Linked DNA regions of Homo sapiens: region 2 is reported to be linked to region 1. The links are microRNA targets in miRTarBase. Many come from high-throughput screens and were not tested one by one. Region 1 holds a microRNA gene; the other region holds the end of a gene's coding sequence.

Region 1 (5,380 bases):
ATCATCATATTTTGTTGTATTGCTCCCAACAAGCACAAGAGAAAAAGGCAGGCTTCCTAGAGACCTCAAGTTGAAAGTTGATTTTGCTGACAACTATCAGGGAGTAAAAGAAAGCCTTTTTCAGGCACTGGAGAACTAACTTTAATGATGATCAAGGTCTTTATGCCTTTATCTTTTAGTTTTTAAGATCATTTCTCTCCCTCCTTTCCCCCCAGTTTTCTCAACATTTATGAGTTAGTTCTGCTGAGAACAACATACTTCAGAACATGTCAGGATAGGGCAGTTTTTTCTTGTTTTTCTTTTTTCTTTTTTTGAGACAGTCTTGCTCTGTTGCCCAGGCTGGAGTACAGTGGCACGATCTCTGCTCACTGCAACCTTTGCCTCTTAGGTTCAAGCGATTCTTGTGCCTCAGCCTCCCAAGTAGCTGTGATTACAGGCATGTGCCACCACATCTGGCTAACTTTTGTATTTCTAGTAGAGACAGGGTTTCACCATGTTAGCCAGGCTGGTCTCAAACTCCTGACCTCAAGTGATTTGCCTGCCTTGGCCTCCCAAAGTGCTGAGATTACAGATGTGAACCACTCCACCCACTCAGGGCAGTTTTTTTTCTGATACCATATCAGGCCTAGGCCTGGGCTGACTCAAATCTTCTCAGGAATAAGAGGTAAGAAGGAATGTTAAACAGCAGTAGTTACCTGGGGTACATGGTTAATTTGATTTAGCAGATTCTTTGGCTAAACCCTAGTAAATTAAAATGTCTGAGCCAGGTCATGGGAATATACATGTTTTTAATACATTCCTTAGGTGATTTTGATGTAGCCAATCTGGGCCAACATTTGGGGACAACTGAGTAGGACCTAATACAGGTTGAATAGCCCTTATCCAAATCTCTTGGGACCAGAAGTGTTTGAGAGTTCAGATTTTTGTGAGGTTTTGAAATATTTGCATTATATACTTATTGGTTCGGGATTCCAAATCCAAAAATCTGAAATCCAAAATGCCCCAGTGTGTGCTTCCTTTGAGTGTTATGTTGTTACCCAAAAAGCTTTTGATTTTGGAGCATTTTAGATTTTGGATTTTCAGATTTGAAATGCTCAATCTATATTAAAGATCAACACAGGCTGAGCACAGTGGCTCATGTCTGTAATCCCAGCACTTTGGGAGGCCGAGGTAAGCAGATCACTTGAGGTCAGGAGTTTGAGACCAGCTTGGCCAACATGGTGAAACCCCGTCTTTACTAAAAATACAAAAATTAGCCAGGCATGGTGGTGGATGCCTGTAATCCTAGCTACTCGGGAGGCTGAGGCAGGAGAATCGCTTGAACCTGGGAGGCAGAGGTTGCAGTGAGCCGAGATCGCACCACTGAATTCCAGCCTGGGCGACAGAGTGAGTCTGTTTTTTTTTTGTTTTTTTTTAAAGTCAACACAAATATTGAAAATAAGCAACTTCAGTGCACAAATAAGCTCAAAATCACTAGTGAGTGATCTATTTTTTGCCAATAAGAAGTACCATTTGTACATGACTTAAAGTGCCTTCCACCAAGAAAATTATTGAAAACTGTTGGGTCACATAACATTCCTACACTTTGGATACAGAGTATTTAGTTTTATACAAAATTAAGACAACAAGAAACCTAGGATGTCCAAACATTCATTTCATTTATTTTACTGCATTTATTTATGCAGTGAAAATTGAAAGATACACCAAATTAAAGATAAAACCCTGTGACAGATAACAGTATATGTAATAACATGAATATTTATTTACACTTGGTAGAGAAAGCAAAGCTAGCTAGCTCTAAACTAGAATGAAAGTCGTTTTGAAATGGGTACGGGGGTATATAAGGGGAATGATTGAGTCACATGTAAAAGCCTTTGTATGCCCAGTGCTAGTGTTTTCCTGAAATCTAGTGAGAATCACAAGGTACCAGAAATAATCAAATAATAAATATTAATACACTGCTGGGATAGAAGTATCTCAGTGTACCAGCATTCACTAAGCTATAAAATCTGTGACAGCAGGAATATTAAATTATGAACAACCTGGTTTATCTGTCTCCTCTTATCTTTTACCTCTCCCTACGCCCAAAATTCTCCTTAGGTTATCCAGACATTTTTACTAAGATGCTTATTTATATGTAAGAGAGATTTCCAGTAGATACAACAAAACACAAGAAATCACCTGTTCTGTTTATTCTTGCTCATGTAGGATAAAGGTCCTGAGACCTCTCAGAATCTTACGAGGTTGGAGAGTTGTTTGGAATGCTGGGTTCTGGTCTTGTCTCTGCTTCCAACCAGCTATGGAATCTTGTGTATTCTTTCAGTCTTAAATCACTCATCTGTTATCTAAAGATGGACTAAATTATTCCTTCCTGCTGTGATATTCTGTGGTTCTCATCAGATAGAAATAACATATTTGAAAATGCTTTGTAAATGTTATGATACTCAGGATTATACTGCACAGAAAAAAAAAAATCCTAAGGCAGCACCAACAAAGGTATTCAACGTAGTGGGTGGTCTTTTACAGCATTACTTTGCCCATATTCATTTTGAAGACCTGAAATGAAGTTGAACTATAAATTGCTCTAAAATTCGTGAAGCAGGGTGAAAAGGTCTTTGCTTTGTTTTACATTTAAATCCAGCTGTCTATTTTCTGCTTATACTAGTGCTTTTTCATGGCAAAAAGACAGAAAAGTTCCCTTCTGCAGTCTCCAGTGTCTTCTGACCTCACAGAAATGTTTTCATGCTTTTACCTAGCAGGACCACCAGAGGCTCTGTCACACTTGCAGTCCCTGGCCCAACACCGAAATCCTTCTGGAATCTGTGCTCTGGGGGCTGTGCCGGGTAGAGAGGGCAGTGGGAGGTAAGAGCTCTTCACCCTTCACCACCTTCTCCACCCAGCATGGCCGGCACACTTTGGTCTACGGCACATCTCCAAGTATAGAGTGGGTTTTGAATGCTGTTATGTCTCACCGTGGGGATGGGAAGGAATACTCTGTTTTGGACTATTTGGAGGTACATGTGAGTGGATTTTATTACCAGAGTAGGAACTGTTTCAAGTTAATGTGTCTTTTATGTTGCTTTTAAGACAACTTTTGTGCCGCTTTTATCCATTCTTCCTTTTATCCACAGAAATACAAATTTCTAATTATAGTATATTTTTTCTATTTTTAAAATTGTGATAAAGCATATATAACAAAATTTGCCATCTTAAGTGTACAGTTCAGTGGCATTAAGTACATTCACACTGTTGCACAGCCATCACCACCATCCATTTCCAGAACTTGTTTTCATCTTCCTGAACTGAAACTCTGTACCTGTTAAACAGTAACTCCCCATGCCCCACCTTCTTTCAGCCCCTGGTAACCAGCATTTTCCTTTGTCTCTATGAATTTGACTATTTTAGATACCTCATATAAGTGGAATCATAGTATTTGTCCTTTTGTGTCAATCATATTGTATTTTTGTCTAAAAAAGGAAAACTATCAGATTTATGTGAAATGTAACGTAATTTACATTTGATTTACTGTTAGTAATGTCTCTTTAATCATGCTATGCTAGGGAAGTACATTATGGTCTCTCCCTCTAAGAATATGAAGAGGAAATTTTACCTTCAACAAACAAGCAAACTTAGTTATATTTTTGTGATTTTATGCTGTTTTCATATTCTATTTTGAGATCTATTTGTCTTAGCTTGGAGGTGGTTTTGTTAAATGTCCACGATTTAGAGACGGCATAATGAAAAAATGACCAAGAATTTGGTTGGGAATGGGAGGAGCTTAGAAGAACAAGAAATTGGCTTTGATTTTATAGTGTATGGTGCTCTGTTGGTAGCTGGACATCATCACAGGCTTTGGATTGAGAAGACCTGTTCTGGAGTTCTAGTTCTGCTACTGCCTAGCGTTGTGATCTTGATGAAGATACTCTTCCTTCCTGGGCTTCAGTTTTTGATCTATAAATTGCTAGTGATGGGGCTGGACTATTTTTAAGTTTGTTCTAACTTTAGCAGTCTTAAGAATTAAGGTTGCATGCCAGAAAATAGGGTTAAATATTTGTTTCTGATCTGGTTACAAAAAAAAAAAAAACTTGATGGCTTAAAGTAAATAAAAATTCAACAGTACGGTGTAAATTTAAAATGAGGCAAAAGAAAGATAATGACTTAATTTTTATTTTAATCTTTCTTATAGCTGTTTTATATAAGAACTTTTCATGAATACAATCAAAATGTCCATGAGATAAAAATAAGCTAATTGTGCAGGAAAAGTACAAATGCACTTTTTCTGCAGCTCTAACATGTAAGGTTTGGGAACAATCGTTGGGCCTGACAAACAGTTGAGCTAGGGTAAGGGTGAATGCCTTTTCTGGAAGCCTATCAAGAGCATCGAGGTGAAGTCCTCTTACCTTTAATCATGGGAGAGCCCATTCTGGACCAAGGGTTTGAGAAAATTATTCTGACTGTGTTCTAAGGTAATAGGTGAATGGGTGCTCAAGGGCCCCTGTTGCATTTCATGTAGACTTGCCAGAAGAGTTTTAGCTTGAAAACATCATAAGATGAATATAGGCAGATCCCAAACTCAGTAAAAAAACAGCTATAGAATGTTGCTCTATCCTCCAAGATGAACACTTTACATAATGTTTGTACAAGGTGGCTTGTGTGAGTTTGTTGATAAACCAGTTAAAAGTTGGGATATCCCCCAGCTATCCCAAAAGAAGAGGACTAAATACAACCATGTTTTAGTCTGCTAGAGACTTGTGTTCTGACCTAAGACCTGTCAGAAGACCTGTCCCACTGGCTCTGCTTCTGTACTAGTACTATAAGGCAGGTTCTGTGTGAACATTAATAACCAAGGATCCTGAGTTAGACTTATAGTTTGGTCAATAACCAATTTATACCTAGATTGAAAGACCAAGGAAAAGTTAATAAAATAATCAACAATCTGGTACTATTTGAGGGAAAGTAGGGCTATCCTATTTGGAGATGGAATAAATGGGATAAATTATGTTTGGGGCCTGAATAGACAAGATCATAGCTTGTATAGTAAGGGTTCTTAACCTGGGGCTTCAGAGCTCCAGCGAGTCTACAGAGAGACTATTTGATATGCTAGTTTTCTTTGTATTTCTCTGAATTTAATTTTACGTGTTTAAAAATATGATGATGAAAAGAGGCACATGGTTTCATCAGATTGCCGGAAGGATCCATGATACAAAACAGATTCAGAACTCCTGTATGTTGAGTTAAAGTGAACAGATTAGTAATGGTTGGAGCATGATATTCAGAGTAGTTCCTGAACAGCTCTTGAATATGAGAAGTCTTTCCCAGGTTTTTTGTTTTGTTTTGTTTTGTTTTGAGATGGAATCTCACTGTCGCCCAGGCTGGAAGT
Region 2 (5,380 bases), not on the chromosome of region 1:
TCAGTTTAGGTCCCTCAATAAAAATTGCTGCTGCTTCATTTATCTATGGGCTGTATGAAAAGGGTGGGAATGTCCACTGGAAAGAAGGGACACCCACGGGCCCTGGGGCTAGGTCTGTCCCGAGGGCACCGCATGCTCCCGGCGCAGGTTCCTTGTAACCTCTTCTTCCTAGGTCCTGCACCCAGACCTCACGACGCACCTCCTGCCTCTCCGCTGCTTTTGGAAAGTCAGAAAAAGAAGATGTCTGCTTCGAGGGCAGGAACCCCATCCATGCAGTAGAGGCGCTGGGCAGAGAGTCAAGGCCCAGCAGCCATCGACCATGGATGGTTTCCTCCAAGGAAACCGGTGGGGTTGGGCTGGGGAGGGGGCACCTACCTAGGAATAGCCACGGGGTAGAGCTACAGTGATTAAGAGGAAAGCAAGGGCGCGGTTGCTCACGCCTGTAATCCCAGCACTTTGGGACACCGAGGTGGGCAGATCACTTCAGGTCAGGAGTTTGAGACCAGCCTGGCCAACTTAGTGAAACCCCATCTCTACTAAAAATGCAAAAATTATCCAGGCATGGTGGCACACGCCTGTAATCCCAGCTCCACAGGAGGCTGAGGCAGAATCCCTTGAAGCTGGGAGGCGGAGGTTGCAGTGAGCCGAGATTGCGCCATTGCACTCCAGCCTGGGCAACAGAGAAAACAAAAAGGAAAACAAATGATGAAGGTCTGCAGAAACTGAAACCCAGACATGTGTCTGCCCCCTCTATGTGGGCATGGTTTTGCCAGTGCTTCTAAGTGCAGGAGAACATGTCACCTGAGGCTAGTTTTGCATTCAGGTCCCTGGCTTCGTTTCTTGTTGGTATGCCTCCCCAGATCGTCCTTCCTGTATCCATGTGACCAGACTGTATTTGTTGGGACTGTCGCAGATCTTGGCTTCTTACAGTTCTTCCTGTCCAAACTCCATCCTGTCCCTCAGGAACGGGGGGAAAATTCTCCGAATGTTTTTGGTTTTTTGGCTGCTTGGAATTTACTTCTGCCACCTGCTGGTCATCACTGTCCTCACTAAGTGGATTCTGGCTCCCCCGTACCTCATGGCTCAAACTACCACTCCTCAGTCGCTATATTAAAGCTTATATTTTGCTGGATTACTGCTAAATACAAAAGAAAGTTCAATATGTTTTCATTTCTGTAGGGAAAATGGGATTGCTGCTTTAAATTTCTGAGCTAGGGATTTTTTGGCAGCTGCAGTGTTGGCGACTATTGTAAAATTCTCTTTGTTTCTCTCTGTAAATAGCACCTGCTAACATTACAATTTGTATTTATGTTTAAAGAAGGCATCATTTGGTGAACAGAACTAGGAAATGAATTTTTAGCTCTTAAAAGCATTTGCTTTGAGACCGCACAGGAGTGTCTTTCCTTGTAAAACAGTGATGATAATTTCTGCCTTGGCCCTACCTTGAAGCAATGTTGTGTGAAGGGATGAAGAATCTAAAAGTCTTCATAAGTCCTTGGGAGAGGTGCTAGAAAAATATAAGGCACTATCATAATTACAGTGATGTCCTTGCTGTTACTACTCAAATCACCCACAAATTTCCCCAAAGACTGCGCTAGCTGTCAAATAAAAGACAGTGAAATTGACCTGAGAGAAAATGAAATGGCCGTTTTACTTAGAGGACCAAATTGGGTCTCCTGAGGAAAGGAATCCAGTTTATCTAATGAAGATGTTGTGCCATGAAGGCACTGAGTCTGTCTGGTTTCCTGAGGGTTAAAAGATTAGGGCTGGGATCACCACAGCATTAATCAATACTGCCTTTCCGTCTCTTCTAATTGCCATAGGCTGGAGATCATCGGTCCCTTGGCCCTGCTAATGTAATGTATTGATCTCAGGTAAGTAAGATTGAGCATCAAATGAGGCAAGAAATCTGTCTCATTGTTAATGAGGTTGCTGTGCTTATTCGCCACCACTGGGTGGAGCCAGCGAGCTGAAGTTTCAGTTGGCATTAGGTGAAGCACCAGTCCGCTCTCAAGTCACATTGGTCCAACTACTACCTGCTAGTGTGTGCTGGTGGTGAGTGGGAAATCTTTAGCCTAGATTTGGCATTACAGAAAAACTGGGCAGCACTGATGTGGCTCGTTTTGGGATGATTTTAGAATTAGACATGACACAGGTGCAAGGCCCTAAGTGTCAGTGGCCACCACCTCTCTATTGTAGCAGAATTGTGTGTAAGACCCAGGACACATCTAGCATCACTGTAGTTGGGTTTTTAGAGAATGCCTAAAGTGGCCAGGCATGGTGGCGCATGTCTGTAATCCCAGCACTTTGGGAGGCTGAGGCAGGCAGATCACCTGAGGTCGGGAGTTCAAGACCAGCCTGGCCAACATGGTGAAACCCCATCTCTACAAAAATACAAAAATTAGCCAGGCGTGGTGGTGCATGCCTTTAATCCCAGCTACTCCAGAGACTGCGGCAGGAGAATCGCTTGAACCCAGGAGGCAGACGTTGCAGTGACAAGATCGTGCCACTGCACTCCAGCCTGGGTGACAGCAAGACTGTCTCAAAAGAAAAAAAAAAAAAAAAAAAAAAATCTAAAGTCATACCCAATGAGATCATTAGTGGCAGGTAGAGCCAAGGCATCTGCATCTATAGAGAAGGGAGCAGAGAGGAGAAAGCTCTGAAACAGCTGGCACAGCCTTCCATTCCCTCCACTGAGGAGAGCCAGGGAAGAAGGTGGTCAGTAAGAACCCAACTGCTAAGACTTGGTCTGGGCGGGTTCCTTCTAGGTGGACCGTCAACAGTATTCAGGACCATTTCCACCATACTGCCCTACATGCAGGTCTTCGCGTGCAGAAGGGATCTATTTCATAAACATGCTAACTAGAGGTGTAACTTTCATTACCCCGGGAGGCTCAAAGAGTTGGTGGTTAACGATTTACCAGAACACCACTAGCTGGGGCTAGATGTAAGGATCACTGAACCCAACAGCCAAGCACCCTAAATGATGAGAACAACAAAACATCCTTGACTTCTCTGAGCTGCTAGCAGAAGAGTGGGAGGAGAGGTCTATCAAGTGGCCCGGGTCCCTTGACCAGGTCACTGCTCATTCCCACCCTGCTCGGAGGGAAAGCCAGAAGGAACTGTAGGACAGCCCAGCAGTACCTATGACTCATTCAGCTAAAACAGAATTGAGCAAGTTTAGCTAATCCCTTTCCCACATTTAACACCTGAAATGTGGACTAATTAAAATACCCGTCATTTTTGAAATGGGAAAGTGTATTGTGAATCACCTCGATAGGCAGGATCCATGATTGCTGTATGTGCACAGTAGGGATTCATCATTCCCAAAGAACTGGGCTTCATTAGTGGGACATGGTGGGGCTTCTCTGATGGAGCACAAATTTAGAAAGCATTGTAGAATGCATATTCTTGCTGTGAAGTGCTGGTGACATTCCTCATTTAGGTGATCCCAGACAGGACAGTGGAGTTTTACTTGTTTTAACTGACTGCTGTCTAACCACAGCAAGTAAAGAAATCTAATTTTATCACCTACAGGCTGAAATACCTTTGGCCTTCTAACCACTCCCCAGGGGAAGAAAGCCCTTGGTCAGCTGCATGGCAGTCTATCTATTATTTCATATTATTAATACTGAAAACACCAAGCATAAATATCCTAATGTAATACTTGTTGCTGGGTAGCACAGGGATTATATCAGACTTTCACAATCCCTATGACTAATAGTCTTATTTGTGAAAGACAAACTGGCCAGAAACACACACACCCAACACAAACATGGTTAAGGCTTAAACCCTTAATTATGCTTCCTAGCAAAATGGTGGCTAATGAAAGCCATATGTGCTAGAAGAGTGGCTGCCTCGCAGATTGCGGCTGCCTCACAGATTGCTGCAGCCTCTGCAGGCCCAAGATGGAGGTGTCGGAAGCAGCCAAATCTTTCTGATTGCCAGTCTGTTTCTCCAGGAAGCTTCATTATATCCAGAAAGATCTTACTGGGGAGTATATCCATCCCATCTCATAAGGTACTTTGTTTCCAGGGTGCTGATCCTACTGGTGGATCATTCAGAAAGTTAATCAGGTGCTCCTAAAATGGTTTTTGGAACTTCCAAGTTCTTACTCAGAATTCCAAGCCATAGGAGACAGGTATCTAAGGTGCCAAGCTGATTCCATTGTGCAAAAAATTTCCTCTCTGAAGGGACGTACACATGAAACTAAAAAAACAACATGATGGGGGGTGGGCTTTATACAAAGTTGAGTGGGGTGACAATGGTACAGAGGAAATGGGACTTTGCAATTATATTTTTCTAAGTGGTCTGAACTTGGTCTCACTACCCACATCACCTGGAATGGTTACCAGGCCTCAAAGGACTGCCCCACGGGCTAAACAGCTGATCCGCTCTCTGAAGCCAGACAGTCTTATCTGGGAGGTCCTTTACAGATGCCACTGTTGAGGGCCGGAAGCTGAAGAGAGTGAGCTCCATCCTCAAGTAGTCCTTTATGCTCCTTTTGAACTAGCCTTGCTGTTCTGGGCCGTCATTTGTGATTTGGCCTGGAGTGTCTAGGCGTAAAAAACAAGGACTGTAGGCATTAGTCACAGACGTGTAAGTTCTTAAGGAGTGAATGCTATTTTTGTTTTCTTAATCAAAATAGTGACCACAAAGTCAAATCTGAGATTATAATTTACCTTGGTAATAAAAGATAAAGGAGATTTACAAAAAACAAGGTATGTGTGTGCCTTGGGATGCTTTTCTGGGCTTACCCCATCTGTGTCTTCATAGATTCTCTGTCCTGCCAGCCATGTCTTTGGTCCACAGGAGCCACTTCCCACTTCAACTCTCCCACAACCTCCCCACTGTTTACTCTCTTCATGCCCTGTGCTCTTGCCCCAAATCCCTTCACCCAATTGGGAAAACTGGATGATAGATAAGTAGTTTCTTATTTACATGCATTTCTCTGGAAATTAAAGTTGCTTTCCAGCTAGTATTTCCTCACGTCGGAAGCATGTGTAAAATAACACATGGAAACTATTTCCACCTGGCACATAAGAAAAAAAGGGTCTGCCTATATTGTAACTGACTTCTACACTTTGCATGTTTTAGTCTGACCCACAATTTTTTTTTTTGGATAGTTGAAGTAAAAAACGTGGTTACAAGATGACTAAAGTTTGGCCTACAATTTCCTGTTTGGACAACAGGAAGAATTGTGCAGTGTTTTGCAACAGGACTAATTCTAGATTCTCACTGCCCTTAAAGATAACTAGAGGGAAAGGGTCTTCTCTTTCTTTTTCATTTATTAAAGATACTTACAGGTTCTTCAGAAGAAGTGATGGGTCCTTTAGGTAATGAAATAGGTGTTGATGGTGTTATGGGTGATGATGTAACT

Evidence for each region. The annotated mature microRNA hsa-miR-197-5p reads CGGGUAGAGAGGGCAGUGGGAGG and lies in region 1 at 2,841-2,863, shown strand. An mRNA with a match to its seed (bases 2 to 7 or 8) in the 3' UTR can be bound and repressed. Matches are read on the target gene's strand: a 7mer-m8 pairs with bases 2 to 8, a 7mer-A1 pairs with bases 2 to 7 and ends in A, and an 8mer does both.
Region 2: miRTarBase lists LETM2 as a target of hsa-miR-197-5p. Seed matches in the 3' UTR shown: 7mer-A1 at 3,675-3,681.

Annotation. Positions count from the first base shown.
Region 1 is chr1:109,596,061-109,601,440 of GRCh38, forward strand. It overlaps MIR197 (microRNA 197), which reads left to right and starts at 2,833; the gene lies at 2,833-2,907. It overlaps GNAI3 (G protein subunit alpha i3), which reads left to right. Exons shown (of 9, transcript NM_006496.4): 9 at 1-4,135.
Region 2 is chr8:38,407,388-38,412,767 of GRCh38, reverse strand. LETM2 (leucine zipper and EF-hand containing transmembrane protein 2) reads right to left here. Exons shown (of 11, transcript NM_001286819.2): 10 at 5,305-5,380; 11 at 3,241-4,556. The coding sequence ends at 4,494. It overlaps FGFR1 (fibroblast growth factor receptor 1), which reads left to right. Exons shown (of 18, transcript NM_023110.3): 18 at 1-1,625. It overlaps LOC102723716 (a long non-coding RNA gene), which reads left to right. Exons shown (of 4, transcript NR_188043.1): 1 at 1-1,874. Among named protein-coding and RNA genes, the nearest start is that of LETM2, 24 kb to the right of the region's middle. RefSeq lists an enhancer at 1-355 and a silencer at 2,968-3,017.